Linked DNA regions of Homo sapiens. The protein of the gene in region 2 interacts with the protein of the main gene of each other region in a biochemical or structural test. Each region holds a gene or a part of one and is shown on either strand. Other genes may lie near its edges.

Region 1 (11,031 bases), on a different chromosome or scaffold from region 2:
AGGCCCAGCACCACTTGTAAGCCACCAGGGCTTGGGGCTTGCACTCTCTGAAGTAATGGCCAGAGCTGTACCTTTTAGCCAAGACTGGAGCTGAAGCAGCTGGAACGCAGGGTACCATGTCCTGAGGCTGCATAGTACAGGAGCCCCAGGGCATGGCCTAGGAAACCATTTTCCCCTCCTAGGCCTCTGGGCCTATGATGGGAGGGGCTGTCCTGAAGGTCTGTGACATGCCCTGGAGACATTTTCCCCATTGTCTTGGTGATTAACATTTGGCTCCTTGTTACTTATGTGAATTTCTGCGGCAGGCTTGAATTTCTCCCCAGAAAATGGGATTTTCTTTTCTATTGCTTTGTCAGGCTGCAAATTTTTCAAGCTCTGCTTCCTCTTGAATGCTTTCCTGCTTAGAAATTTCTTCCACCGGATACCCTAAATCATTTCTCTCAAGTTCAAAGTTCCACAGATTTCTAGGGCAGGGCCAAAATACTGCCAGTCTCTTTGCATAGCGAGAGTCACCTTTACTCCAGTTCTCAAGTTCCTCATCTCCATCTGAGACCACCTTAGCCTGGACTTCATTGTCCATATTACTATCAGCATTTTGGTCAAAGCCGTACAAGAAATCTCTAGGAAGTTCCAAACTTTCCCACATTTTCCTGTCTTCTTCTGAGCCCTCCAGACTGTTCCACCCTCTTCCTGTTACCCAGTTCCAAAGTTGCTTCTGCATTTTTGGGTATCCTTGTAACAGCACCCCACGCTCTGTGTACCATTTTACTGTATTAGTCTGTTCTCATGCTGCTAATAAAAGACATACCCAAGACTGGGTAATTTATAAAGGAAAGTGGTTTGACTCACAGTTCCTCATGGCTGGGCAGGCCTCGGGAAGCTACAATCATGGCAGAAGGGGAAGCAAACACATTCTTCTTCACATGGCAGCAGCAAGGAGAAGGGTCAAGCAAAAGGGGGAAAAGCCCCTCAAAACTGTCAGATGTCATGAGAGCTCACTATCACCAGAACAGCATGGAGGTAACCACCCCTGTGATTAAATTACCTCCCACCAGGTCCCTCCCACAATATGTGGGGATTATGGGAACTATAATTCAAGATGAGATTTGGGTGGGGACACAGCCAAACCATATCAGTCTGAAAATACAGTCATATTCTCATCACCTTCTTCGTCATTACTGGGGGGTTGTGTTTCTGTTACCTTCAACTACTCCATAAGAAATGTACCAAAAACTCTTGACAGTTGGTCTTTTGAAAGCTTCTGCATTTTAATTCAGTCATCTGGAATTTGAGTCTTCTTTTACTCTTGTATTTATTAGACCCTTAGGTAAGAGGAATTAAAATAACAGTGACCTTGTGTCTGCTGTGTCAGGTACTGTGTGAAGCACTTTATATACATAAATACTCGTTATTTCAAATGTACGAGGTATGTGATTTTCAGCATTTTATAGACATAGCAGTAAAACTGAGAGAAATTAAGTAATGTGGCTGTGGTTATAGACTGTAGTCGTCAGCTTTTGCTGGAGCAACATACAACCCCCAAATTTCAGTGGTTACTACAACAGACCAGTCATGTGCAGTTCTTCTGGTATCAGCCTGTCTTATGTTCTTGACACCACATATCTTGTTCTGGGGCTGAGCAGAAGGAGCAGCCCTATATAGGGCATGCTGTTCTCAAAGCAGAGGGAGGGCAGAAGCTCAAGGTGGACAGAGCCAAACCACACAGGCAACCATGGTATGGCATGTCCACTTACATTCCATGGCCAGAGCAAGTCCTGTAGCCAAGCCTTAAGTCAGTGGGGTGGGAAGTATACTTTACCCACAGGGAAGAGTGACAGAAGCAGGGAGGGAACAAATAATCGGGAAAACATAGTAGTGGGGACAGAATTTGAACCTAAGAGTCAAGAAGATAGTGCAGAATTTAATGCAAAACCGAATGCAGAATTTGAACCTCAGAGTCAAGAACATAATTAACCACTGAGTAGACTGGGAGGTTTTTTCTAATTTTTAATTTTTTATTGATATATAACATTTGTATGTTTTTATGGAGTACATGTGATATTTTACAGGCATAGAATGTGTAATGATCACGTCAAGGTATTTAGGTTATTCATCACCTCACTTAAAGAGCTGAGGAGGAAGGAGACTGACAGAAGGATGACAACAGCAAGAGAAAGGATATAAAAATATATCATAGTATATACTAGAAAACTCATGATCTGAGTAATGGCTCTGAGTTGTCAGATTAGGTTATATTCAGATTGCTGTTTTTAAAAGACTCACTAGAATCCATGAGACACTGCTAAAATCAGAATGCTTTTGTTACTTCAAAATTAATCTTAAAAATTCAGTGAAGTAGAATGTAGTCCCAAGTGAAATGTTATTTGTGAAATTTTTCCTGAAATTTTTGTGAAATGTCAGTGACAAATTTGGGGGTGGGAGAATTTGTGTTTTCATTTATACTCTTAAACTGTGTGTGTGTTTTATTTTATTTTTATTATTATTTTTTTGAGACAGTCTTGCTCTGTCACCCAGGCTGGACTGCAGTGGTGCAATCTCGGCTCACTGCAACCTCTGCCTCCTGGGTTCAGGCGATTCTCCTGCCTCTGCCTCCTGAGTAGCTGGGGCTACAGGTGCCTGCCACCACACCTGGCTAATTTTTGTATTTTTAGTAGAGATGGGGTTTCACCATAATGGCCAGTCTGGTCTTGAACTCCTGACCTTGTGGTCTGCCCACCTTGGCCTCCCGAAGTGTTGGGATTACAGGTGTGAGCCACCATGCCTGGCCTATTTTTTGAGACAGGATCTCACTCTGTTGCCCAGGCCTGAGTGCAGTGGTGCGATCATGGCTCACTGCAGTCTCTACCTTCCAGGCTCAGGTGATCCTCCTGCCTCAGCTTCCCAAGTAGCTGGGACTACAGGTGTGTGCCACCACGCCCAACTAATTTTTATGTGTTTTTGTAGAGATGAGGTTTTACAATGTTGCCTAGGCGGGTCTCGAACTCCTGGACTCAAGTGATCTGCCACCTTCGGCCTCCCAAAGGGTTGTGATTATAGGCGTAAGCCACTGTACCCAGTCATGTATTCTTAAACTTTAAACTTGGGAGAGACTTGAGTTTTATACCTGTGTTAATATGAAATGAGAAAACCTTACTGGTTATTGGAACAACCAGAATTAACATGAAATGAGTTTTCTAAAAACCATATTTTAAAAAGTAGGTTACATATTCACATATTTCAAAGTTGTGCAGGTACAAAGGGGCATAATAATGAAAGGTCTCCCTCCCACGCCATTGCTTTTCTTGAATGCTGCCAATGTTCTGGAGATTAATATATGGGCACTTACAAATTTATATATAGAAAAGAAATAACGGGTCAAATGAATGAGAAAGTAGAAGATAACACATTTTTATTTTTTCCCTTTTACTTCAGGCACAACAACTAATTCTTTAGATCTGAGAGGAATTTGTTTTTAAGGCTCTAGATGTGAAAAAAGGAATGTTTAATAGTTTATCTTAGGTTTTATTTGAATTGGTCCAATAAGTAGTTTTTAAAAGCAAGTAAACTCTTTTTGTCTTTTAACTTCAAGTTTAAACCTTGATTACAAAGAGTGATCCTAGCTCTGCTGGGAGAAGTATTATAGATACGATCTCGTTTAAATTCGTGGTTACCATCACATCATTTCATTATTTGTTTTTATCTGGGATCAAACTGGAATGTGAATTCCACAGGCTCAGGACCCTCTCCTATTTGTTTTTAATTTCCTGTTGCCTAGCATAGGTCTTGGCCTGGCAGATCCAGAAAATGGCTTATTGAGTTAATGAAATAACTCAGTAATCTAGACATTCTTGGATCACTATGTTGGGCTTGAATTGTTTTTCCTGATAACATTTCTTTTGGCAGGAGGGTCTCTTGCTATCTGCAGTAGCATCCAAAAAAACCCAATTTTCAGGATTTTGTCTTGCAGTGTGTTACTGTTGTGTGCATCACAGATAATTGTTGTCAAGACATTAATGAATATCTGATTTGTTACTCACATGTTATGTGAGTACTAATGGCTTGTACTAATGACTTTTGCCCATTAATAAAGGATAGCATCTGTTATCATCTGAGGTACATTCTGTTGAGAGTGTTTCAAGTGTTACTCTCTTTTTTTCCCCTTTGGAATTGGTGTTTTCCTCTTAACTTACATTGTTAATGGAAGAAGAGATTGGAAGTGACTGAGATAGACTATCATTGGAACATGAGAGTGCCAGCTTTACATGCCGAAGGATCTCATTTTGCAAACTCGTAATTTCTTTCAGGAGGAGGCAAAACAGATTCAGAATCTGCAGAAAGCAGGCACTCGTACAGACTCAAGGGAGGATGAGATTTCTCCTCCTCCACCCAACCCAGTGGTTAAAGGTAGGAGGCGACGAGGTGCTATCAGCGCTGAGGTCTACACGGAGGAAGATGCGGCATCCTATGTTAGAAAGGTAGTTTTGATATTTGAATATCGGGGGGATGCTTTTGGGACCCACTTGGTGGTCATCTAGTCTCCTTTGATGAATGAATCATAAAATACAAAACAGGGTGGAACTTCATCCATCCTGTACAATTCTTGGGTACTGGAAAACAGGTTTCTGTAATAGCATGCTGTCAGAGGAAATAACTAATAGTGATTATGAACTAGTGAATAATTGCATTTTGGGGTTTGTTATTTCCTTGCAGTTGTTTTGCAGTAGAAGGAGGTGGGCGGTATTGCTTTTTCTCTTGAATCGTGATGTCCTTTTTTTGCTATCCTATTAAATGTTGTGGCTTTTAACCTTTTATTCTACGAGCCTCATTTGTCCTGTGTTCTCCTCTTCCTCAGAGCCAGGCTATTTTGAGTTATGCTGTTAGCCTTAAAGGGGAACAGAATTGTCCTGGCACTTGAGGCTTGTGAAGCTAACAGATCACAGATTTTTAAAATGACTAATTATTATAAAATACTTAGTTTTGCCTCAGAATAATGACCTTGGTCCAGGTGTTTTGATTTGTTTCTTTAGTTGTTAACTGGGAACCAAGTACCAGACTTTATATTTAGGCCTGGCTGTAGGCAAGGGGATTAATTAGTCAATACTTGTTGAGTAGTTTATGGATCAAAGATAGTACAAGTGTGTTGTAGTGAAACACTACAAAGCAGTCTTGTTTAAATACCATAATGTGGCTTGACATTTAATTGAAGCGCAGGTTGCAAACGTGAAATGTTTTTGGTTTATGGAATTGTCATTTGACCTTCAGTTCTTTTCTAGGTTATACCAAAAGATTACAAGACAATGGCCGCTTTAGCCAAAGCCATTGAAAAGAATGTGCTGTTTTCACATCTTGATGATAATGAGAGAAGGTAGGAACAGGCTCTTTCTTAACACTATTTTTCAAGTAAGGGTGTGATCCCAAATTGTTTTCAACACTTGTTGCAAGTTTTAGAGCTCTTAGTAATTGTTCACCAGATGACAGTCTGGGGTCTTTAATTCTAAGCTTAATGTTTGAAATTCACGGAAGAGACATGTGAAATGTAACACGAGGCCTTCTCTCTTTTGCAGTGATATTTTTGATGCCATGTTTTCGGTCTCCTTTATCGCAGGAGAGACTGTGATTCAGCAAGGTAAGGGCCTCTGGAGCATGCAATATTGTTACGGGAGAGGAGGCGAGACTAGAGGATTTTTTTGGTTTTGTTTTATTGAAGTTTGTTTTCCTCTTTGATCCTACCACTTTTTTTTTTCTGTTATACTATTGGATTTTTCTATTTCTTTTAAATTAAGATTTTCTGAGATGGACAGAACACTTTGTATTGGGAACTAATATTTTTGATACAGTTTTGTTTATAATTTAAAGGAAATGCCTACATTGTCTTACCTTGAATGTCATATAGAATTGCAGAATCATATATATCTCTCATGTTCTTTATATTGTTAATCACTTTTAAAGTAAGAAATAAATGAAACACCTACATTCTTCATTGTATAGCCCTGTCTATTAAAAAGGTTCTAGGACTTCTATAGATTCTTACTTTGCCTATATAGACTAACATGGATCTAACTTTTTGACTATCTTCCTCTTTTTATTTTCTTATTTATTCTTGACATTTTATGAGTGGGTATATATTTTCATTTTGTGGCAGCCTGATAATTTGTTATTAACTATTTGAGTTGTTTCTAATGTCCTTGTTATAAATGCCATAGCAGTTAATAACTACACATATGTAGCTTTTAAAAATTTTTTTCAGAGGTATTCTTCACCATGAGATGACTAAAAAAATTTTGATTAATTCTATGACTTTTAAAATATGTTGCTTGATTTTCTTTCCCCTGAAAGATTGTGTTAGTTTGTAACACACTCTCACAGTACCACTGTAAAATAAGTTTATTGTTTTGTAATAATTTTGATAATTTCTTTCTTTAATTTGGAATATGCTTCTAACTTTTTTACCCTCTTTTAGGTGATGAAGGGGATAACTTCTATGTGATTGATCAAGGAGAGACGGATGTAAGATTTACCAATATCAAAAATATGTTGATCTTAAAAGCCAATGTATTGATCGCTTCCGAGCAATAAGAATAGTGATTTTGAAGGGTCATTACATCCCTTGTATGTCAGATTTTATTAATACCTTTTGCCAAGTATTTTTATGACACAGAGAAACTCTTTAAAGGTAATTTTCTGTTCAGAACTTTGCTGGAGTGGTGGTGAAGAAGTGTGTGTAGCTGGGTGCAGTGGCCGATGCCTATAATCCCAGCACTTTGGGAGATGGAGGCAAGAGGGTTGCTTGAGCCCAGGAGTTCAAGACCAGCCTGGGCAACAAAGTGAAACCTCATCTCTTAAAAAAAAAAAAAAAAAAAGATTCTAGACCCAGCCATTAGCTAGCAAAATTAATATACCTTTCTTATTCACAAATGAAATGGGGACAATAATAGCATTGATCTTTTAGGATTATTAGAAGATTCAGTGACCTAATGCAAGTAAAATGTTTAGCATAGTGCTCAGCACGGTTCTCTAAGTATCTGTGACTGGTATTAGTGCTTAGCTGACCTTTTTCCCTTACATCCTTACAGAGTGCTTTTTTCTTATCAGATAATTAAATCAGGTAAATTATAGACACTCTTAACTCATTTAACTCGTCAGAAATCACCTATTCTTCTCTGTTGTGTACTGCAAACATAATATATTCTGTTTTTTAAAACAAAGTTCAGGATTGTGACCTTTTAAAAAGGTTTGAGGGTTTTTAACATTTAAGTGTTTGTATCTAGAAAATAAACTTTTTTGATGTCACTTGCACTTTAGGTCTATGTTAACAATGAATGGGCAACCAGTGTTGGGGAAGGAGGGAGCTTTGGAGAACTTGCTTTGATTTATGGAACACCGAGAGCAGCCACTGTCAAAGCAAAGACAAATGTGAAATTGTGGGGCATCGACCGAGACAGCTATAGAAGAATCCTCATGGTAAGAGACCATGGTGTTTGAGAGTGTGATTTAGAATTCTCATCTACGTAACTAATGTTTGAATATTACCAAATTAAAAAGAGAATATTTCTTTTAATGAGCAAATATTTCTTTCTTTTAATAAGCGAATATTTTTCTTTTAATGAGCAAATACTTTGCATTAAGCCCAGCTTAGCATTATTCATTATGCCATTTTAGGCAGTGATATTTTAGAACAAAACCTTGGGAAACAAGATCTGGTATATATGTGCTGGTCATCTCATGTTTGGAAATCTATCCATTTGCTGGTAGGCACATCTTAATTTACCTAGTTATACCCATTACAGCATGATAGGTGCTGCTTTTAAGTGCTTAAAGTTATTTGGGGCCATTCAGAAATAATCAGCTTCCCTAACCTGTGAAAGTGGGTTATCAGTAATGTATATGTATGTCATGTCCCCTCTCGTTAAAGGAATAAACAAAATACTAAAACCATTGGAACTTTCTGGTGATAGTCAGATTTTTTGAGAACGTTGTGATAAATTTATAGGATAGCTTTGGATGTTTAAGTCTCAGCCAATGCATTGGTCATTTTTAATGGTTTTCTTAAATTTGTGCAGTGTCCATCTGACCATTTGAAAATGTACAGCCTGATGTACTTTGAAATTTTTCTGCATTTGGGATATATAGATAGATTAGATTAGATAGATAGTCTTGTCCTTCGCAGCAACATAGATAGAGCTGGAGGCCATTTTTCTAAGCAAAATAACACAGGAACAGAAAACCAAACCACATGTTCTCACTTACAGTTGGGAGCTAAGCAATGAGAACACGTGGATACTAGAAGGGGAACAACAAACACTGGGGCCTACTTGAGGGTGGAGGGTGGGAAGAGGGAGAGGATCAGGAAAAATACCTGTGGTGTACTTTACTTATTACCTGGGCAACAAAATTACCTGAACACCAAACCCCTGTGACACCCAGTTTACCTATATAACCTGCACATGTACCCCTGAACCTTAAACCCACACACACAAAAAAACGCTTATGGCAAAGATAAGTCTAAATTTTAGAAAGATTGGTTTTGAAGTGATGTGACAGTCTACTGGAGAAGAAACTGACCATACAGTTAGTTCTGCATTTCCTCTACAGGAATACTATTAGTAAAAGGAAACATAGAATGTTTACAGCTTTATCTCATTGTCAAAGAAGGAAGAGGTAGGACCTGGAACTATTGGTTTGAAATAAAATATTTTACTTTCTCATAGTGGGCCTGAAAGGAAATTAGGGCCTCACAATGCTTTGGCTTTGTGGACAGGAATTAGGAACTGTAGATATGGGGTGAAATATCTATATAGCTGGGTAGGGGAGGATATGGTCCTTTTTTTATAGAATAAAGACATGTCAATTGTATAGGTGAGAAGCCAGAACTAATGGAGGAATCTGCATTTAAATACCAGCGTTGAACAGGAAGAACACTAGGATTATTGGGTTGTAAATGACCTAGATTACTTTTGTGAGAAAATATTTTCAGAGATAAATTGGGTTGGCAGTGGCACAAAATCAGTTTGAGAGTAAACATGGAAATTGGACATTGGTTTAAAGTGTGTGGAAAAATATCTTGAGTGATAGGCTCAGGTATAAACCGGTATTTCGACTGTATTTGGAAGTTGGGAAATGCTTTGTGAAATATGTCAACATACTGGTTGCAAATGCTAGGAATTGGGCATAATATTGGCGGAAAATAAAAATCACAAGAATGTCATATCATTCATTACCTGTAAAATAAAAATGAATTAGTTAAAATTAAACTTTCCTCATTAAAAGCAACAAGCTTTGACTTTCTGGTTTTAAAATTTATTTGAAACTTAATATTTATTATTCCATAGCATTATGTGGTGATAATTACACGTCTTGGGGATATCACTTTTGTTATTTTTATTTTTAGGGAAGCACACTGAGAAAGCGGAAGATGTATGAGGAATTCCTTAGTAAAGTCTCTATTTTAGGTGAGTTGTAAAGTGTGTTAACTTTGCTAGTATGTGAGATACCCCTGAATTAGAATTGGATGGACTTGGGAAAAGCCTTCTGAAAGTATAATTGCTACTCATTCCCCCTGAAAAGACAGAAGGGCTGAAAGTCCTTCTGACTGTGGACATTCACAGTTATTTCCTCTGTGACTTCCCGTCTCTCTTGTTCCATCATTGAGTTGATTGGTTCAGAAAAGTGAGTACTTCCAACAATACATTTCCTCTGTGGAAAGATTAGGTATCATTTGCTGGCATCCTCTGAAAACATGCCAGAAGTTTGTTGAAATTTAGAGTAAAGCAGATTAATTGAAGATATTCTTTTGTGCATTTTGTTATGTGGACTTGGAGATGTTAGAACTTGTTCTTCATGAAAGGGGAATGGGGATTTTTATAAGGTAACAGGCTTCTGCCATTGTTTATTACAGTGAATTTTTCACCTCTTCTTTGTCTTTTCTTTGAATTGGTTACATATGCTTTGTGTTTTGGATAGTAGTTTGGCCTTTGGGAATAAAAGTTATTTTCTAGTTCTTTTTCATAAAGTAAACCAAGAATTTAAATAGATTAAATTATTTCTATGAAACTTTGGAACGATATGGATGGGGAAACTATGACTTTTGAGTATTGTAGTTGTAGGTTTGATTTGCATTGATGGCAATCTTCAGGAATACTTAAGGATTACATTTTCTTATTCCCTTGCCATTTGGTACAGTTGGTATAAATTAACCTAGCCACTGGGCTACCGAAGTAAGGATCTAAGGGCTATCTGCAGGCAGTATGAGAATCCTGCTCAGACTAGAGGTAATTGAAGACAGGTACCACTTTTAATCTGAGACACTACTAGAATGTTGAATGGGCATGGCTATTTGGTTGAATCTCTTTATACTTTCTTTTTACCTTTATAACAGCACCAAATAATACAGAGCAGTTATTTTGATTCTTGTCTTTCAGAGTCTCTGGACAAGTGGGAACGTCTTACGGTAGCTGATGCATTGGAACCAGTGCAGTTTGAAGATGGGCAGAAGATTGTGGTGCAGGGAGAACCAGGGGATGAGTTCTTCATTATTTTAGAGGTAAAGAACTCAGAATTTAATACTTGAATTTTAGAGGTAAAGAACTCAGAATTTAATACTTTAAAAAGTTGTACGCTCTAAGAGGGAAAGAGTGGGCTAATTCTGAACTATAGCTTTAGTTTTTAAGAATACCTGACCATTTTATTTTAAAATTATCTTTTACTTTGAAATGCTGTTGTTTGGTTTTCTGCCAGGTCACTATATTTTTAAATGAGTTTGAGTCAGAATTCTTGAAGGGCCCTAGACATGAAAAGCCAAATTCTAAAAACCATTTAACATAACAAACTGTGATGATTCTGCACTATTCTTGTTAAAATGCAAGTGTTTGGGCTATTTGGCAAATAAGGATTAAAGGTAATTATTTAAATTTGAAAAATTACTGTGTTTGTATATCTCCACATTCCATGGAAATGTATAGCAGATACTCTTGCTAAGCGGATCCAAGTGGCAGATTTCTATGAATGTGGCTCCATAGTTGCTAATTGATTTTA
Region 2 (11,031 bases):
TGATCCGTCCACCTCGGCCTCCCAAAGTGCTGGGATTACAGGCGTGAGCCACCACGCCCAGCCGTGAACTGTACATTTTAAAAATGGTTAAAATGAGGCCGGGCATGGACGCTCATGCCTGTAATCTCAGCACTTTGAGAGGCCAAGGCAGGAGGATTGAGTGAGATCAGGAGTTTGAGAACAGCCTGGGCAACAAAGCAAGATCACATGTTTGCCAAAAATTAAAATATTAACTGGGCATGGTGGCATGTGCCTATAGTCCCAGCTCAACTTGAGAGCCTGAGGTAGGAGGACTGCTTGAGCCTGGTAGTTGGAGATCAGCCTGTGCAACACAGCGAGACCCTGTCTCTACCAAAAATTAAAAAATTAGCCAGGCGTGGTAGTGCGCACCTGTAGTCCCAGCTACTTGGGAGGCTGAGGCAGGAGGATCACCTGAGCCCAGGAGGTTGAGGCTGCAGTGGGCCATGATTGCACCAGTACACTGCAGCCTGGGCAACAGAGCAAGACCTCATTTCTTTTAAAAAAAAAAAAAAAAAAAAAGGAAGTTAAAATAGTAAACTGTTATGTGATATATGTTAACAAAATAAAAAAATTAAATTTTAAAGAATGTTTTCCAGCATAGAGAGCAATCTATGAATCTATGAACGGGGGGAAAGTCAACATGAAGAAAGAGTCAATGTCGTCAACAACGACTGAGACAAGGGAGGTTTCCAAGTCCCCTCCCCATCCTCTCCAGTGACCTCAGCTGAGCAGCTCTGTCCTCATCTTTAGCTGACAGCAGCACTTTTCCATCCGCGAAGCTGATCTGCAGTCTTTTATTTGCAGGGTCTGCGGGGATGGCTTGTCCTCTAAGGGATTTTTTTGCTTTTGTTTTTGTTTTTATGAACAGGCAAATCAGCCTCACTAATTTGGAGACGCCTTACCGTAGAAGTTGGTCCTCCTCTCTCCAGAGCCCGCCATAAAGCTGGGCTTTTGTGGTGAGAAGAAGAAAATGAGCCATCCTCATCCCATCTCCTCCAACATCTATGCCATGTGAGGCTCCAGAACGGCTCTACTTTCCGACCTGGCTGCACTGCAACTAGCCCTTAACCAAGGTGACCTAGCAGCCCTCGGTGGCTCCATCCACCTGTGGCTTCCTCCCTCCAAGGACCCTGCCTCAGGCTCTCTTCTGAGACAGTTGCTGCAGATGTTTTGCCCTCAAAGTTTCCCAAATTGGAATGCACTCTCTCTCCCTGGATCTCCTCACTGTCCAGCAGCCCAAATGCACAGCTGAGCCAGAGCCAGTCCTTCCTTATATGCACAGCCGAGCCAGAGCCAGTCCTTCCTCATACCCCAGTCCCCATGGCAGTCTCCTACACATCTGGGTTCACTGCATTCCTGTGTCCACCTCCTGGCTGAACTCAGATTTGAGTTTCTCCCCCATGTCCCTCCTGCCCCGTAGTGACCCATGGCTTCCGTGTCACTCCCTGTCTAGAATGAGTTTCCACCACCCACCCCTTTCAGCCAATAAACCCCTACTCCTCCTGCAAAATTCTCCTTAGGTGTCCACTGCGTCTTCACCCCCTACCTCTTGCCCTCCAGAGCTGGTAAGGCCCCTTTTCCACGTATCGCTGGGACTCTTCTCACCCTACGCAGTTCTCCTTAGACCAAGGCACTGGAAGGCTTGGCATCAAATGGAAAACTCCATTCAGAAGACACTACAGTTGCATTCTCTTGCAAGAACTTAAACCTCCCTTTTCATACATAGAAAAAGGGAATCAAGGTAAAAAATAATAAAAAAGAAAAATATAGATAATAAAATAAGCCTCCCTTTTTGAAGCGTCTGCTTTGCCCCAAATACTAAACATGCAATGTATCATTTTTTGGACAAAGAAGAGGAAGAGAAGACCCAGGAGCTGCCTGCCTTCACTCTGGTCTCTGTGCTTTGCAGGCAGTGATGACAGAGCAAGAAGCGCTATTTCTAGATTTTTGCCTTTAAAATTCAAATAGAGAGCAAAATAAATAAATAAATAAAAGGAGAGAACATGGTGTTCTTTCTTCCTGAACTCTCAGTAAAACAAAGGAATGATTTTACTCCTACCCCCAACAAGTACCAATGACAATGGGGACCACACTCAAGTCTGCAGACTTTAAAAAAAGATGTTTCCAAGAGATGCATCCACTCTCCCCGAAGAAGAGGTTCTGGCATGAACTCCTCTCCATGGAGAAACGAGCGGTCATCCAGGAACTAGAAGGATGTGGCCCGGAGTGGAGAGACCTCTTGCCTTCCAAGTTCTGTAGAAGAAAGCTGGCTAAGCCCTGCAACCACAGACCAAACCCACTGGCTTGGCTCGGCTGCTGTGCCATAGATAATATGGCACTGGAACCACTGTTTGGCCCATAAGCCAATCAATCATGACAGAAGAGTGGGGCTGCAGGCTCAGGGGCTGGGGCAGAAAAGGGAGAAAGGGACTCCACACGCACAGGTATTTATCTGTCTGTGCATCCGCTACAGTGGGTGTCAATGGAGCTGATTCTGCTCCCCACAATAAACACTGGACAATGTCTGGAGACATCTTTGGCTGTCACGCTGGAGTGGGGGTGCTAGAGGCATCTGGTGGGTGGAGCCCAGAGACATTGCTCAGCACCCTACAGTGCACAGGGCGGTTCCACCGCAGAGAATCCTCCAGCCCCAAATGTCAGCAGTGCTGAGGTTGAGAAACTCTACTAATACGTTCCATCATCAATCTATCAATCAATCACCTATCTATCTCAATATCTATCAACCATCTACCATCTATAGCTACCAGCTATCTATCAATCAGCTATCATCTATAGCTATCATCTATCAATCACTTATCTAATATCTATCAACCATCTATCATCTATAGCTATCATCTACCTCAATATCTGTCATCTATCAAATATCTGTCTCAATGTTGATCTCCATCCATCCATCCATCCATCCATCCATCCATCCATCCATCCATCCATCAACTATCTGTCACAGTGGTTCACAACTGGGGATAACTTTTTGTCCCCCCATAGGGGGAACTTAGCAGTATCTAGAGACATCTTTAGATACTCGTCATAGATGGGATGGGTGCTCTTGGCATCTGCTGGGTGGAGTCCAGGGACGCTGCTCAACACCCTACAGTGCACAGGATGCCCCACCACAGAGTCCTCCATGATCCCGCCCCATGTGTCAGCACTGCTGAGGTTGAGAAACTCTCTTTTAGCATGAGAGCTCTGCCTACATGCAATCGGTCATTAATCTATCAATCAATCACCTACCCACCTCAATATCATCTATCATCTATAGCTGTATATATTAGTATCTATTATCTATCACCTATCTTAATATCATCTATTAGCTACCCATCATCTATCTACTCACCTATCAATCACCCATCATTTACACCTATCTTAATATCTATTATCTATCACCTATCCATCTCAACATATACCTACCTATCGTATCTATCATCTCTCTCTGTCCGTCGTCTGTCTATCACAGTGGTTCACTAGTGGAGAAAACTTTGCCCTCCCTCCCTGAAGGAACACTTGGTTATGTATGGAGACATTTCTGCTTTTCATAACTGAGGTTGCTGCTCCTGGCCGCTGGTGGGTGGAGCCCAGGGACACTCCCCAACACCCTGAAGTGTGCAGGACGGCCCCACCCCAGAGACTCCTCCAGCCATAAATGGGAGGCACCTCCGCTGAAAGTCCTCGTTTTATACCTTCATCAAGAAGTCCAAGGCCTAAAACTGCCCGTATGGGAAGCAGATGTTGAGCAAGGCAACTTACATTTAGAAGAGAAGCTGCACAGCTGGGAGGATGAAATTCATTCTTCACAGAGGATCTAGGATTCTCCTCTAAGACATGCTCCTCAGCATGCAACGTTGGACACCCTCCAGCATCTTATCCATGGGGCTGGCCAGACCCGGCGTGCTCTCTCGTGTTATGTACAGGGAATGCCAAGTGTCTGAATGCACTGGATCAACTTTAATCCAGTTCTTAAAGCCACTTGGTCCCTAAAGTGTTAATGCACAGAAAAAGCAAAATGCTATAGCAGGTTATCATAATACTGCAGGGCACCGAAAGATCAATTATCAGCAAGTCACTAAGGCGGTCTCATGGGCTAAGTTACATCACCCCCTCCAAGTCTACATTGTTTTTCGGATTCTTTTTTGAGACAGGGTCTTGCTCTGTCCCCCAGGCTGGAGTGCAGTGGCACAATCTCGGCTCACTGCAATCTCCGCCTCCCAGGATCAAGCGATCCCCCTACCTCAGCCTCCTGAGTAGCAGGGACTACAGGCCCCCCCACCACACCCAGCTAATTTTTGTACTTTTTGTAGAGACAGGGTCTTGCCATGTTGCCCAGGCTGGTCTCAAACTCCTGGGTGCAAGGGACACTCCCACCTCAGCTTCCTAAAATGCTGGGATTATAAGTGTGAGTCAACATGCCCAAGTGGCAAACTCATTTTCTGTCATTTTTTGGGAAAAGTCACCTGTAAATTGCTATCACCATTAAGTCTTTAAAGGCTCATTGTTGACAATCACTTCCCTAGATCCAAAACTTTTCATGAGAGCTGTGGACTTCAGGGCCTGCCTTGTTTTCTGCACTATTTCAAAATCAAAGAACTGTATTTATTTATTTATTTTTATTTATTATTATTTTTTGAGACAAAGTCTTGCTCTGTCACCCAGGCTGCAGTGCAGTGGCACGATCTTGGCTCACTGCAAGCTCTGCCTCCCAGGCTCAAGAGATTCTAGTGCCCCAGCCTCCCAAGTAGCTGGGTTATAGACGTGCGCCACCACGCCCAGCTAATTTTTGTATTTTTAGTAGAGACAGGGTTTCCCCATATTGGCCAGGCTAGAATTTTCTTTTTAATTTTTTTTCTTAAGAGACGAGATCTCACTATGTTGCCCAGGCTGGTCTGGAACTCCTGGTCTCAAGTGATCCTTCCGCCTTGGCCTCCAAAAATGCAGGGATTACAGGTGTGAGCCACCGAGCTCGGCCCCAAATCAGAGAATTCTGAAATGAGCCCCTGCCATGTTCTCCCAAAACACTGAATAAAATCCTCCCAAGAATAATATCGAAAGTGGCCTTAAATTCCATGTAGACTTTAAATGATGAGGAAAAATTCATGCTTTTTGGCAACACCACCAGGCGGACCTGACATACAAATAACAGCTCACATTCGACTGTAACCAGCACTCGGAGGAGCCGGTGAGCTGTACGGGCAAAGGACAACCCATGAAGCATCCAAAATGTCCTCTTCAAAAGCTGTCACGGTGCAGAGAAATTTCACTCCTTAAAAGTTAGAAATAGGCCAGGCACGGTGGCTCACATCTATAATCTCAGCATGTTGGGAGGCCGAGGTGGGAAGATCATTTGAGCCCAGGAGTTTGAGACTAGCCTGGGCAGCAAAGTAAGATCCCATCTCTACAGAAAATTTTAAAATGAGGTAGGTGTGGTGGTGCACACCTGTAATCCCAGCATGTCAGGAGGCCAAGGCAAGTGGATTGCTTGCAGCCTAAAGTTCAAGACCAGCCTGGGCAACATAGCAAGACCCTGTTCATAGAGAAAAAACAAAAACATTATCTTCACCAAAGAGGTTGTGAAAAATATATACATATGTTTTTTAAAAATTAAAAATAAATAAAAACATTAGCAGGGTGTAGTGATGGGTGCCTGTAGTCCCGGCTACTCTGGAGGCTGAGGAAGGAGGATGGCTTAAGCCCGGGAGGTTGGGGCCGCAGTGAGCTGTGATTGCACCATTGCACTCCAAGATGGGCCACAGAGCAAAACCCGTCTCTAAATGTAAATCTATATATATACTTTTTTATATAAAAGATAAAAATAAACCAACATAGGTAACTTTGAATAGAATTTCTAAAGTCTCTAGGGCTTTATATAAGACTTAAGAAATATAAACGACTTTGTTCCTTAATTGAAAGCAGGGAATATCAAAATCAGAATCCACGTCCCTGCAGGAATGCACCTTATCTGCCAAGGAAAACAGTCTTGAGCTATCCTGCCTTGAAGAAAGGAGAACTACCTAACTAAAGCTCTGTTCTACAAGCTCCTCCCTATTTTTTAACTTGCGGGAGCTCAAGAATTCCATCCTGGGGAATTCTCTCACTTGTATACTCCACCCACTCCCATGTCCATGCGGTTCTTCTGTGGGATTTTAGATTTCTGAACTGTAGAGTACTCAGGAGCCCATCGTCTCGGCTGCTCTCCTGCTCCAGGAGGCGCAGGGGGTGTGTGTGAGTTCCTCAGGGCTATCATTAACAAAGTACCACAAACTGGGGGTTGGGGTGGAGGGACGCGGCAGACAACAGACATGCATTCTCAGTCCAGGTGCAGGGGCTGACACCTGCAATCCCAGCACTTTGGGAGGCTGAGGCTGGAGGACTGCTTCAGGCCAGGAGTTTGAGACCAGCCTGGGCAACACAGCAAGACTTCATCCTACAAAAACTTTTAAAAGTTGGTCAGGCATGGTGGCATATACCTGTAGTCTCAACTAGTTGGGAGGCGGCAGAGGCTGCAGTGGGCCATGATTGTGCCACTGAATTCCAGCCTGGGCAAGAAGGAGTGAGACCCTGTCAAGAAAGAAAGAGAAATGCAGAAAGGAAGAAAGGAAGGGAGGAAGGGAGCCACCGCGCCCATCCTCTGCATATGATTTTGTTCGGAGCTTAGGCAGCATTGGGTCTAGAGGAGAAGGCAGGTGCACTTGTTCCAGTACACACGAGGTGCTTCAAGAACATGATGGGAGGCACCCTGTGTCCCGGGGACAGCAGGTGAATGAGGGAAAACAGGTAGGTGTTTCTTAGATGGGGGAAGTGAAGGACAATGATGAGAGCAAAGAAGGAGGCCTGTCAAAGAAGGGTGGCCTGGGAGAAGCCCCGGAATGAGTGTGTGAACAGCACCTTCTACCTTCTCCTGTAGGGAGGTGGTGGCAGGGGGCCAGTCCACGAGGATACTGGTAGGAGGATGCTGCATTGCTGGGGCTTTATATGGGATACTTCAGGAGTACCCTGAGGATGAAAGGAGAGAGGCAGGTCATTGCAGAGGTACCTGGGAGGACCAGTGAGGCTATAAAGTGAGGAATGTCTTCAAGGGGAGCAAGGCTGGGAGAGAAAGACCAGGTAGGAGGGAAGCCAGTACAGAAAATCAGGGCAGAGAGACGGGACCCAGATAAAGCAGAAGATGGATAGGTGGACAGGAGAGGCATGGTAGCAAGATGGCGGAGGGAAGACGTGGGAATTGGATGGAAGGCACCCATGGAGGGAAAGGAGAGACACGCAGGACATCCTTGTCTAAGGCATCTGGGTGGAAATGGAATTACCCTGCTGGAATGGTCTGAATATCTTGTGTCCTCCCAAATCCCTATGTTGGATCCTCACCCCCAAGGTGATGGTGTTAGGTGTTGTGTCCTTTGGGAGGTCATGAGGGTGAAGTCTCATGAATGGGACGAGTGCCCTTATAAAAGGGACCCCAGAGAGATCCCTCACCCCTTCCACCATGTGAGGACACAGTGAAAAGGCGCCATCTATGAACCAGGAAGCGGGTCCTCGCCAGACACTGAATCCACCGTGTCTTGATCTTGGACTTTCCAGCCTCCAGAACCATGAGGCAAATGTCTGTCATTTGTAAATTACCGAGTCTAGGATCCTTTGTTATAGCAGCCTGAATGGACTATCACACCTACCCTAGGACATAAGACTGTTGTGTACCATCAGCTGGAAGTGTGTGGGCTGCATCTCAACGGGGTATCTCTCATCCACAGTCAACCAGAAACCCAACGAAACCTGAAGCCCAGCCCCGTCCACGTGACTGTGGTCCCTTAAAAACCAACTTAACCAGTTCTGCCGAGAGCTATAGATGCAGAACCCAAGGAGGTGAGGAGACAAAGATTTCTGCATCCTTTTCCGGGCAGAGATACTTGGTTCACCCAGGAGAGGAGCAAGGGGCCTTGGGCACGGACTTCTGAACACAGAGCGTTTCTTTTTGGACCTGGTCAGCCATGGAGGTCAGGAGCCCTGGAGGTATTCCAGCTCTAAGATCAGAGGCTGATAAGACCTGACAGGTGGAGACTGCTGTGGCCTAAGGCTTTGCACGCAGGCCATGGTCTCGGCCCACCCAGCTTCTTATAAGAAGAGACACACAGGGGTCTAGGGAGAGTGCGTGGGGAGAGGCTTCAGGAGGGGACTCACAGCCTGATGAGGAACGGGTGGCTGACTTCCTTCAGGACAGACTTCTCATTGTGTACGTGTTGCTCCTGCTTTAGGCGGATGACGTCGGGAATGCTCATCACCTTGAGGGCGAAGAAATGCTTGGCTGTCTTCTCCTTCACCAGGTGCACCCGCCCGAACGTCCCAGTGCCTGGAGAGAGAAGAAATCGACAGAGGTCATTAAGTCTTCCGACAAAGGAAGAAACCACCACAGCCATGCAATCAGCGGGGGGCTGCACCAGGACGGCAAACACAGACCCCAAGTGAAACTTTCAGAGACTTTGTGTCATGGTGCACGTGGGCTGATGGCATTTAGTGAGAGGCGCTCACCTGGAATTTTCCACTGAATACAGAAATTGCAGAGAGAGAAAGAGGGAGAGAGAGGGAGACAGAGAGAGCCATCTGCCTCTGAATGGTTCCTCAATTTGGGGACAAACTGGCCATAATTTCTGCAGATCAGTCTTCGCACACAGCACACCCACACGCCCCACACACCCACATGGAGAAGCATTAGAGTAATAGTAAATGTATTTATATAACATGCCTTTTTCTCTTCAGGCTCTCTGGTTTTATCAGAAATACAGACAGGGTGTAAAACACACAGCCCTCCTCAACACGGCTGTTTCCTTAACGCACATTAAGGCTTGCTCAAAGTACGGAGTCCGTATTCTACAATCTGGCGTGGGTTGGGATGAAGTGCTATATAGGTGCCCACAAACAGAAAACAAAACAACAACAACAACTGCAACCACTACAAATATAAAAGAAAACCAATAGCTCTACTGTATTCTGCTGGGACATTTTCAATCCAAACACTCTCTTCTCCTCCTTCCCCTCCTCCATCTCTTCCTTCTCTTTTTTCTCTTCCTCAATCTTCTCCTCCTTCTCTTTCATCTCTTCCTTCTCCTCTACATCCTTTTCTTTTCCACTTCTTCCTCCTCCTCCATCTCCTCCTCCTCTCCCTCCTCTTCCTCCCACTGGGGTGCATGTAAATGAAGAAATCTAATAGTCAATGAGATATAAAAGAAAATCAAAATCTCTAAACAAGCTTTGCTTGTTCCTCCTCCTCCTTTCTCCTCCTCCCTCTCCTCTTCTTCCTCTTCATCCTCCTCCTCTTCCTGTAACACACTGATCCTACAAGGTGTGCACGTGTTCACGCACATATTGAAATATTCTTCACGTAGCATAAATGTTCTTGGGTTAATGGAACGAATAGTGCAGTGGCGCCATCACAGCTCACTGTAGCCTCTACCTCCTGGGCTCAAGCAATCTTCCCGCCTCAGCCTACCCAGTTAATTTTTGTACTTTTTGTAAAGAGGGGGTCACACTGCGTTGCTCAGGCTAGCCTTGAACTCCTGGGCTCAAGTGATCCTCCTGCTTCGGCCTCCCAAAGTGCTGGGACTACAGGCATGAGCCACTGCAACTGATGCAGGATTTCTAGAGTATCCCTAAATTGCCTTTGACGTACCTTGATCCCAGCGTCAGCAGCCCCTTACTGACATGCAAGTCATTCCTCAGCAATATTTTTAAACAACGCATTCACAGCTGCAGACAGAGATGAGCAACTAAAACAAAACTGCCCTCCCGTATTATGTGATCACACCCACCCCAAACAGCAGAGAGGCTTCTCAGAAACTGACATTCAGAGAAAGGATGGTTTGGAAGTGTATCCTTCTGAGGAACCAACATCTGTTGACGAGCAAATCTCACCGATCAATATTGATCCATTTACCTATCCATTCATTGGCTGGTACTCCTGTGCCTGCTTTATGCTAGATTGCAAAACCCAAGAGAACCAGGATCTTCCAGACACCTGCACTCCCATGTTTATGACAGCACTATTCACAACAGCCAAGGCGTGGAAACAACCTCAGTGTCCGTCCAAGGGCAAATGGATAAAGAAAACATGGTACATATACACGATGGAATACCATTCAGCCCTAAAAAAGAAGGAAACTCTGGCATTTGCAGCAACATGGATGGAACTGGAGGCCATTATGTTCAGTGAAATAAGATAGGCACAGAAAAACAAATATTAAATATTGCATGATCTCACTTATACAAGGAATCTGACATGGCTTGGCTGTGTCCCCACCCAAGTCTAATCTTGAAGTGTGGCTCCCATAATCCCCACGTGTTGTGGGAGAGACCAGGTGGGAGGTAACTGAATCATGGGGGTGGGTTTTCCCATGCTGTCCTCCTGATAGTGAATAAGTCTCACGAGATCAGATGTTTTAATAAATGGGAGTTTCCCTGCTCGGGCTCTCTTCTTGCCTGCTGTCATGTAAGACGTGACTTTGCTCCTCCTTTTACCTTCTGCCATGACTGTCGGAACCTCCGCAGCCATGTGGAACTGTGAGTCCATTAAACCTCTTTCCTTTATAAATTAACCAGTCTCAGGTATGTCTTCATTAACAGCATGAGAATGGACTAATGCAGAATCTACAATAGTCAAACTCATAGAAGCAGAGAGTAGAGAGGTAGTTATCAGAGGGTAGGGCTTGAGGGGGAAGGGGAAATATATTGGTCAAAGGATACAAAGTTTTAGTTGAACAAGATAAACCATGGAGATCTACCATACACCTAGTTCATATAGTTAACAATACTGAACTGATAAATGAAATTTTATATATAAATAGCTCACATATACAATAGTAAAATTGTATATATGAAAATTTGCTTAGAGGGTAGATCACATTATATTGTTTTGTCTTTTTTTTTTTTTTTTTTTGAGACAGGGTCTCTCTCTGTTGCCCAGGCTGAAGTGCAATGGCACAATCAATAGCTCACTGCAGCCTTGACCTGCCA
Region 3 (7,436 bases), on a different chromosome or scaffold from region 2:
AACTCTGCTACCTACTTGGTGTGTGATCTGTAACAAATTACTTAACCTCTCTGTTTCCTCCTCTAAAAATATGGGTCTAGGAAGAATAAAACCTTCTTCACTGTGTTGTTGGGGGGATATGATGAAATACTGATGTGCTTGGCACAGGGATAAGTATGGAGTTCAGTTAAGTGGGGGATTTTATTTCAACCACTCTACAAATATTTATTGAGTGCCCACTATGTGACAGGCATTGAATTAGGGACCAGGAAGAAGAAATGGGGCAAGTGCTGTCTTATGTGATTTAGCTTTTCAATGGCACAGGCAGAATGGCATCAAATGGCCTGTTTCTGACTCCACTGCCTCCACGCTGCTGTGGGTGGCCTGGGCCTGCTACTTTCACCATCTCATCCCTTGTGGAGCTTACATCCCAAAGGTAGAGGGGAACAGATAAAAGATTGTACGGTTTTGAATTGGGACAAGCCCAGTAAAGAGGAAGCATAGAGTGCTTTGGGGAAAATACTGGAATAAGAGAGTGGGGACACATTTGAATCTGAGGGGGTCAGAGTTACTTGTGAGTTACTTTGTGAGTAACTCGGGTGCAGAGACCTGTGGATAAGCATCAGGGACCCCACCTTCTTCCTTTCCTCTCTTTTCTCTACATCCCTAGGGATTTGGAGCTTGCTCTCCAGTCTGGCAGCCTCGAGGGAGGGTGTACTTAGGTCATAGCATAGCCCTGCCCTGCTGGGCCCCGCCATACACACCCTCTAGTGGCCACAGCGCATGCCAGGCACTAGGCTGGATGGGCCCTAGGAATCCAAGGACAGCAGGACTGTCACTGCTCTTCCCATCCTGACATTATCTCCACTCAGATGCAGTGGCCCTGTAAGGAGGGCTGCTTCTAGGTCCTCTTGTCACTTAATTTTGTCAGCCACCTCCAGCATGATTCTTATTTCCACTGCACAGATGAGAATCCCAAGGCTCATAAAGTTGAGGGAGGTAAGTAGGGTCAGTACTGAATTTAGGCCCACTGGACTCTGGTTTCAGTGAGCTTCAGGTGGCATCGTTCCTGAGCACATCAGGAACGATGCCACATCTCCCAGTGAGCAAGAGATGATGCCAGATTTTGCCATTACTGCCCAGCAAAGAAGGCAGATCCCCCCAGAAAGGTCACTGCTTCAATCTCTCCTTGGTCTGAGGCTGTTGGGGCATCTCTCAGGGCACTTCCCCAGGAACTCTGCAGATTGGGATGCCATGGTACCTCAGAGAGGCATGGGGGTGGAAGTGGGAAGAAGGGAGCCCCTAGGGGTACGTGCTGAGCATCTGTAGAAGCACACACATCCCTGCCCTCAGGAGGTCCTGCAGGTTACCTGCTGGTAATCCTTCCTGCCCGGCCCATTTCCTTTGCTTCCCATTACACAAGCATACCCCTTCTTCAGCCAAACTGGCTGGGTTTTAATCCGGCATCGGCTACTAATTATAAGCTTGTGCAAGTTACTTTTGGCAAGCCTTTGTGCCTCAGTGTCTTTATCTATAAAATGGTGATAATAGGCCGGACGTGGTGGCTCACACCTATAATCCCAACACTTTGGGAGGCTAGGGCCGGCAGATCTCTTCAGGCAGGTCAGGAGTTCGAGACCAGCCTGGTCAACATGGTAAAGCCCCGTCTCTACTAAAAATACAAAAATTTGCTGGGCATGGTGGCGCATGCCTGTAGTTCCAGCTACTTGGCGGGGCTGAGGCAGGAGAATCACTTGAACCCGGGAGGTGGAGGTTGCAGTGAGCCAAGATCGCACCACTGCACTCCAGGCTGGGGATAGAGTGAGACTCCGTCTCAAAAAATAAGCAAAAAATGGTGGTAACAGGCCGGGCGTGGTGGCTCACGCTTATAATCCCAACACTTTGGGAGGCCGAGGCAGGCGGATCACTTCAGGCAGGTCAGGAGTTCGAGACCAGCCTGGCCAACATGGTGAAACCACGTCTCTACTAAAAATACAAAAATTAGCCGGGCATAGTGGTGCATGCCTATAGTTCCAGCTATTTGGGAGGCTGAGGCACGAGAATCACTTGAGTGCAGAGCTGAGATCCCACCACTGCACTCCAGTCTGGGGACAGAGCAAGGCTCTGTCTCAAAAAAATAAATACATTAAATAAAAAATAAAAATAAAATGGTGTTAACAACCACAGCTATCCCCAAAACGTTGTATTCTGGGGCCTCAACCCCTGACACTTTGATTCAGCAGGTGGACCTTTGAACCACATTTTGGAAATCCCTGCCTAAAGAGTATAGTCTGGCATCACAGACCTACACACCACTTCCAGCCAGAGGATGAGCAGGCGTGCTGGTTCATGCCTCTCTGGTTTTAGCATGTTAGCATTGTCAATGTCATCCTCGTTTTAGTGGCAAGTTACATGAGTGAGCTCCTGTGCCTCAGTTTTCCTCATCTGTAACTGGAGATAATAATAGTAACTATGTTAAGTCCTTATATATTAATAATAATAGTACCTATGTTAAGTGTTGTGAGCGTTAACTAAGTCCTGGAACATTGCCTTGCCCATAGTAACGACTCAATACGCACGAACTATTATTATTGTAATACACAGTCAAAGATAATCCACAAAGAGCATACACGGGGATAAAAGAAAATACACTGAGTTTCTGTTTGTATTTTAAGATGTATTAATTTCCCCATGGGCGAAAAGTGACTGAAAGGGGCCACAAGACAGGCTTCTGGGGTGCAGGTCAGGTTGCTTTTTGGGTGCTGGTGACATCATGTGTGTTTGTTCACGTGTGAAAATTCATCCTGCTGTTCGCTTGCGATTTGTGCATTTAACGTGCACTATCTCCAGGGACCTTCGTGGTTCTGTGAAGCACGAAGGGCAAGCATCCTCATCCGCGGTTTCAAACAAGAAACTGAGGCTAGGACCGCTACTTTAATTTGGCCAAAGTAGTAGGGGATGGGTGTGAGGAAGTGTCTCAGTCCGATCTTTCTTTCGGGGAGCAACGGCCACTCTCAGAGAGCGCAGCGCGAACAGTACCTGGTTCCAGGTAAAGCTCAGCAAAGGGTTCTGAATCCTCCTTGCAAATGCCACCCTTCCCCCAGCGCACACAGACTCTGGGCACGGCCGGGGGTTCGCACCGCCGCGCACTCCCCAGGCTAGCTCCACGCGTGGTCACTCTCCAGGGAGACCCGCCCGCCGGCGCCCCGCGGTCACCGCGGGGGAATGGCGCCCAGCCCCGGGCCAATGAGAGTAGCGGAATTTCTTTCATTCAGCGCGGGGCCAGGCTCCTGCCCGGAAAGGGGCGGGGCGCCGCGCCGGGGGTGGGGCCGCCGCGCGCGGGGGGAGAGGGCGGGGCCGGCCCCTCTGCCTGGCCAATCGGCGCCGCGCCCGGGGGGGGAGGGGGGCCCAGGCCTTTTTTCCCCTCCGCGCGGGACCAATCCCGACTTTACAAGCTTGAACTTTTGCCACCCTCGGACTAGCGAGCGCGCCCGAGGAGGTACCCCGCCGCGCCGGCTCCAGGGGCAGGAGCGGCCTTAACCCTTCCCGCGCCGGGCGTCAGGCTGCTGCCGCCGCGCCCCCGATCCCGCCCCCAACCCACCCCCATTTTCGCGTGGAAACCTCTCTAGGGAAAGCGTGATCCCTCACCTACAGCCCTCTCCGAGGTGCGGAGAGTAAACTTGAGAAGGGAGAGGAAGCACCCGGCCTGGAGGGGGCCCGGCCGGCCGGCGGCCCGCCTCGCTCCAAGGGAGGGCCGTGGCGACCGAGAGGAGCCAGCGAGTAGACACTCCCCGCCTCTACCCCACCCTCTCCATCTCCCCACTCCGGGCGAGCCTGGAGCCACCGTACGCAAAGCGTCCTGAGCTCCCTGTTTGGCCCGGCAGAGCGACCCCCGACTTTGTGCAAGGAGCGTAGAGCCCCTAGTGCAGTCACGGAAGATCCGCTACCCCAACATATCCGCCGCCCCCTGCTCCTCAGAGGCTCAACCCTGGAAGGCACACATGCACACCCATTTTTATTAGCCTACCCTAGGATGGGGGTTTGGAACAACTTTAAAGTGCAAAGTGTGTTTGTAAGTTTGTGCACAAGCCAGGGAGAGGCAAAGCGCCCCGTTTGCGTCCGAGTCTCAGTGGGTCCGCCGAGCCTTGCGCGCCTGCTCGTGGCTCGTGTAACCCTGTGTGTGTGTGTGTGTGTGTCCGCGCGCGCGTGTGTGCTCGCTCGCATCCGTGCTCTGGGCGCAACGCGAGGCAGAAAGCGGGCCGCGGGCGCTGTCAGGCCCTGGGCGGGGGTGCCGGGGTGGTGTGGGGCGGGGGCCCGAGCTCGGCCCGCCCCGGGAGCCGGCCCCTTGGAGCCTCCGGCCCTGCAATGGGACGTGTTCTCCTTTAAGAGTTAAGAAACTTGAAACCTTGTTTGCGCAACAATCAGCGCCGCGGAGCCGCCAAAGTGTCTAGACTGGCATATGATGGGAGGCAGCCAATGACTCCGCGGCGCTCCTCCGGGGGCCCTCAGTGTGCGTTTGAGGAGAACAAAAAAGAGAGAGAGAGCCGAGCGGGGGAGCGATCGAGGGAGCTGAGCCGAGAGAAAGAGCCGCCGGGCGCTGCCTCGCCAGACCTCGCTGGGACCCCGGGGCCACCGGGAGGCACTTTTGTGGAGGGGGGAGGGGGGGCGACCTCGGCAGCCTCGGCGCACGAAGCGTCCGAGGGCAGCGTGGGGCGGGCTGCGACCTCTGCATCGGTGGACTGCATTTTTAATTAAGGATTCCCAGCAGCTCTTTGGGATTTTTACAGCTTCCACTCATGTGTTGACACCCGCGTCCAGGAGAAACTCGCTCCAAGTGCATCTAGCGCCTGGGACCTGAGACGGCGTTGGCCTTTCGTGCATGCAAATCCAGGGATTTAGGTTTTGTTTGGGATTTCCTTTTCTTTCTTTCCTTTTTTTTTTCTTTTTGCAGGGAGTAAGAAGGGAGCTGGGGGTATCAACAAGCCTGCCTTTCGGATCCTGCGGGAAAAGCCCATGTAGTTAAGCGCTTTGGTTTAAAAAAAAGGCAAGGTAAAGGCAGGGCTTTCCAGACACATTTAGGGGTTCGCGCGAGCGCTTTGTGCTCATGGACCAGCCGCACAACTTTTGAAGGCTCGCCGGCCCATGTGGGGTCTTTCTGGCGGCGCGCCGCCTGCAGCCCCCCTAAAGCGCGGGGGCTGGAGTTGTTGAGCAGCCCCGCCGCTGTGGTCCATGTAGCCGCTGGCCGCGCGCGGACTGCGGCTCGGCGTGCGCGTGTTCCCGGCCGTCCCGCCTCGGCGAGCTCCCTCATGTTGTCGCCCTGCGGCGCCCCTTCGACGACAGGCTGTGCGCGGTCTGCACGGCGCTCCGCGGCGGAGCTTCATGTGGGGCTGCGACCCGCGCAGCCGGCGCCTCGCTGAGGGAACGGACCCCCGGTAACCGGAGACCGCCTCCCCCCCACCCCTGGCGCCAAAGGATATCGTATGTTCAGGTCCAAACGCTCGGGGCTGGTGCGGCGACTTTGGCGAAGTCGTGTGGTCCCCGACCGGGAGGAAGGCGGCAGCGGCGGCGGCGGTGGCGGCGACGAGGATGGGAGCTTGGGCAGCCGAGCTGAGCCGGCCCCGCGGGCAAGAGAGGGCGGAGGCTGCGGCCGCTCCGAAGTCCGCCCGGTAGCCCCGCGGCGGCCCCGGGACGCAGTGGGACAGCGAGGCGCCCAGGGCGCGGGGAGGCGCCGGCGCGCAGGGGGCCCCCCGAGGCCCATGTCGGAGCCAGGGGCCGGCGCTGGGAGCTCCCTGCTGGACGTGGCGGAGCCGGGAGGCCCGGGCTGGCTGCCCGAGAGTGACTGCGAGACGGTGACCTGCTGTCTCTTTTCGGAGCGGGACGCCGCCGGCGCGCCCCGGGACGCCAGCGACCCCCTGGCCGGGGCGGCCCTGGAGCCGGCGGGCGGCGGGCGGAGTCGCGAAGCGCGCTCGCGGCTGCTGCTGCTGGAGCAGGAACTCAAAACCGTCACGTACTCGCTGCTGAAGCGGCTCAAGGAGCGCTCGCTGGACACGCTGCTGGAGGCGGTGGAGTCCCGCGGCGGCGTGCCGGGCGGCTGCGTGCTGGTGCCGCGCGCCGACCTCCGCCTGGGCGGCCAGCCCGCGCCGCCGCAGCTGCTGCTCGGCCGCCTCTTTCGCTGGCCCGACCTGCAGCACGCCGTGGAGCTGAAGCCCCTGTGCGGCTGCCACAGCTTCGCCGCCGCCGCCGACGGCCCTACCGTGTGCTGCAACCCCTACCACTTCAGCCGGCTCTGCGGGCCCGGTGAGCGCGCTGCGCCGGCCGGGGGGGCCCCGGGTCCCCGTCCCCATCCCCTTCCGTGCCCTTCTCTCTGTGACACTGCGGGTCGGCGCAGCTGCGGGTGCTCCCCCGGGTGCCCTTGGAGCGTGGGAGCCACCAGGGGAGGCGCCTCAGACCGGCCGAGGGGAGTGGGTGTCCCAGCACACACATCAAGTGGCAACTTTATCTCAAGGCTCCGGTAAACTTAAAAGGGTACATGTCGTAGTTTTCTCTGTGCAGTTTCAGGGACATGATGTAGGCTCCAACTTCATAGGCAGTGAAAGGGGAGGGCAGGCCAAGGAGAGACCAAAGAAGTAGGTGCTATTTCCTCCTACCTCAATTCCGGAATCTACCCCAGTCTGTGCCCAGGCTTCTAGCATTTGTATGCACGTGCCCTTACCCACACTGTGCTTTTCTATGTCCAAGTAGCTGTAAGTTGTGAAATTGGGTGTACACAAATCATAGCTAGAATCAAAAGTGTTCGTCAAATGTCCAATTTGTGCCTTTGCATACTTTCGACAAAGCTTTGCAGGGTAACCCCTCTCTGGAGTAAAGAGCACCCTCTTTATTCCCCACATAATATCATTCCCCACATCCCTTGGGTGTCAAGTGCCAGGGTCTTCCATAGTCCTTCTCAAGTTTTGTGTTCAGCTTTTGTATAGAGTTTAGGGTCTTGGAGGCATCCGTGAGTAGATGAAGAAGCCAGATACTGGATTACCTCTGAGAACTGCCCCCCTTCTTTGTTCTCCTCTTGGGATTTCCTGCACACGCCCCACCCTCAGCCTTGCTTACCTGGCCAGGCCCTGGTGCTCAGGTGCAGACAGGCAGAGGCCCCAGCAGGTCAGGAGGCTCCAGCAGGCCAGGAGCTTGCAGCTGCCTTGCTCTGACCTCTGTCTTGTGGGGAACACACACTTTAGCCTGTAGCTAGCCTCTGAGGGATGTATGGGAATCCATTAGCTGGCACTGGGGTTTTGCAGGGGTGGGACTGGCAGGGAGTCACAGGCTCTTGAGCCTGGGAGGGCTCTGAATCCCTCCATTCTGGCTTCCCTGGGGAGAGTCAGCACCCAGGCTGGGAGCACAGAGAGGGTCAGGTTGTAGGTCTCCTGACTCTGTGTGGAAGGGGAAAGTGGGTCTAGGATGGTGCA

Evidence for each region.
Region 1: the proteins of PRKX (region 2) and PRKAR1A form a complex in vitro, tested with the Homo sapiens proteins (one study listed by BioGRID).
Region 3: of the proteins of PRKX (region 2) and SMAD6, one has a biochemical effect on the other in vitro, tested with the Homo sapiens proteins (one study listed by IntAct).

What each region holds. Positions count from the first base shown.
Region 1 is NC_000017.11:68,518,452-68,529,482, forward strand, and holds part of PRKAR1A (cAMP-dependent protein kinase type I-alpha regulatory subunit), read left to right. Parts: intron 1-4,304; coding exon 4,305-4,475; intron 4,476-5,273; coding exon 5,274-5,365; intron 5,366-5,564; coding exon 5,565-5,626; intron 5,627-6,460; coding exon 6,461-6,507; intron 6,508-7,302; coding exon 7,303-7,461; intron 7,462-9,388; coding exon 9,389-9,449; intron 9,450-10,418; coding exon 10,419-10,540; intron 10,541-11,031. UniProt on the Homo sapiens protein: Regulatory subunit of the cAMP-dependent protein kinases involved in cAMP signaling in cells.
Region 2 is NC_000023.11:3,666,393-3,677,423, forward strand, and holds part of PRKX (cAMP-dependent protein kinase catalytic subunit PRKX), read right to left. Parts: intron 8,375-11,031; coding exon 8,206-8,374; intron 1,801-8,205; exon of another isoform or gene 1,542-1,800; intron 1,095-1,541; exon of another isoform or gene 890-1,094; intron 1-889. UniProt on the Homo sapiens protein: Serine/threonine protein kinase regulated by and mediating cAMP signaling in cells. Acts through phosphorylation of downstream targets that may include CREB, SMAD6 and PKD1 and has multiple functions in cellular differentiation and epithelial morphogenesis.
Region 3 is NC_000015.10:66,697,800-66,705,235, forward strand, and holds the start of SMAD6 (mothers against decapentaplegic homolog 6), read left to right. Parts: upstream 1-4,436; 5' UTR 4,437-5,459; coding exon 5,460-6,276; intron 6,277-6,292; exon of another isoform or gene 6,293-7,436. UniProt on the Homo sapiens protein: Transforming growth factor-beta superfamily receptors signaling occurs through the Smad family of intracellular mediators. SMAD6 is an inhibitory Smad (i-Smad) that negatively regulates signaling downstream of type I transforming growth factor-beta.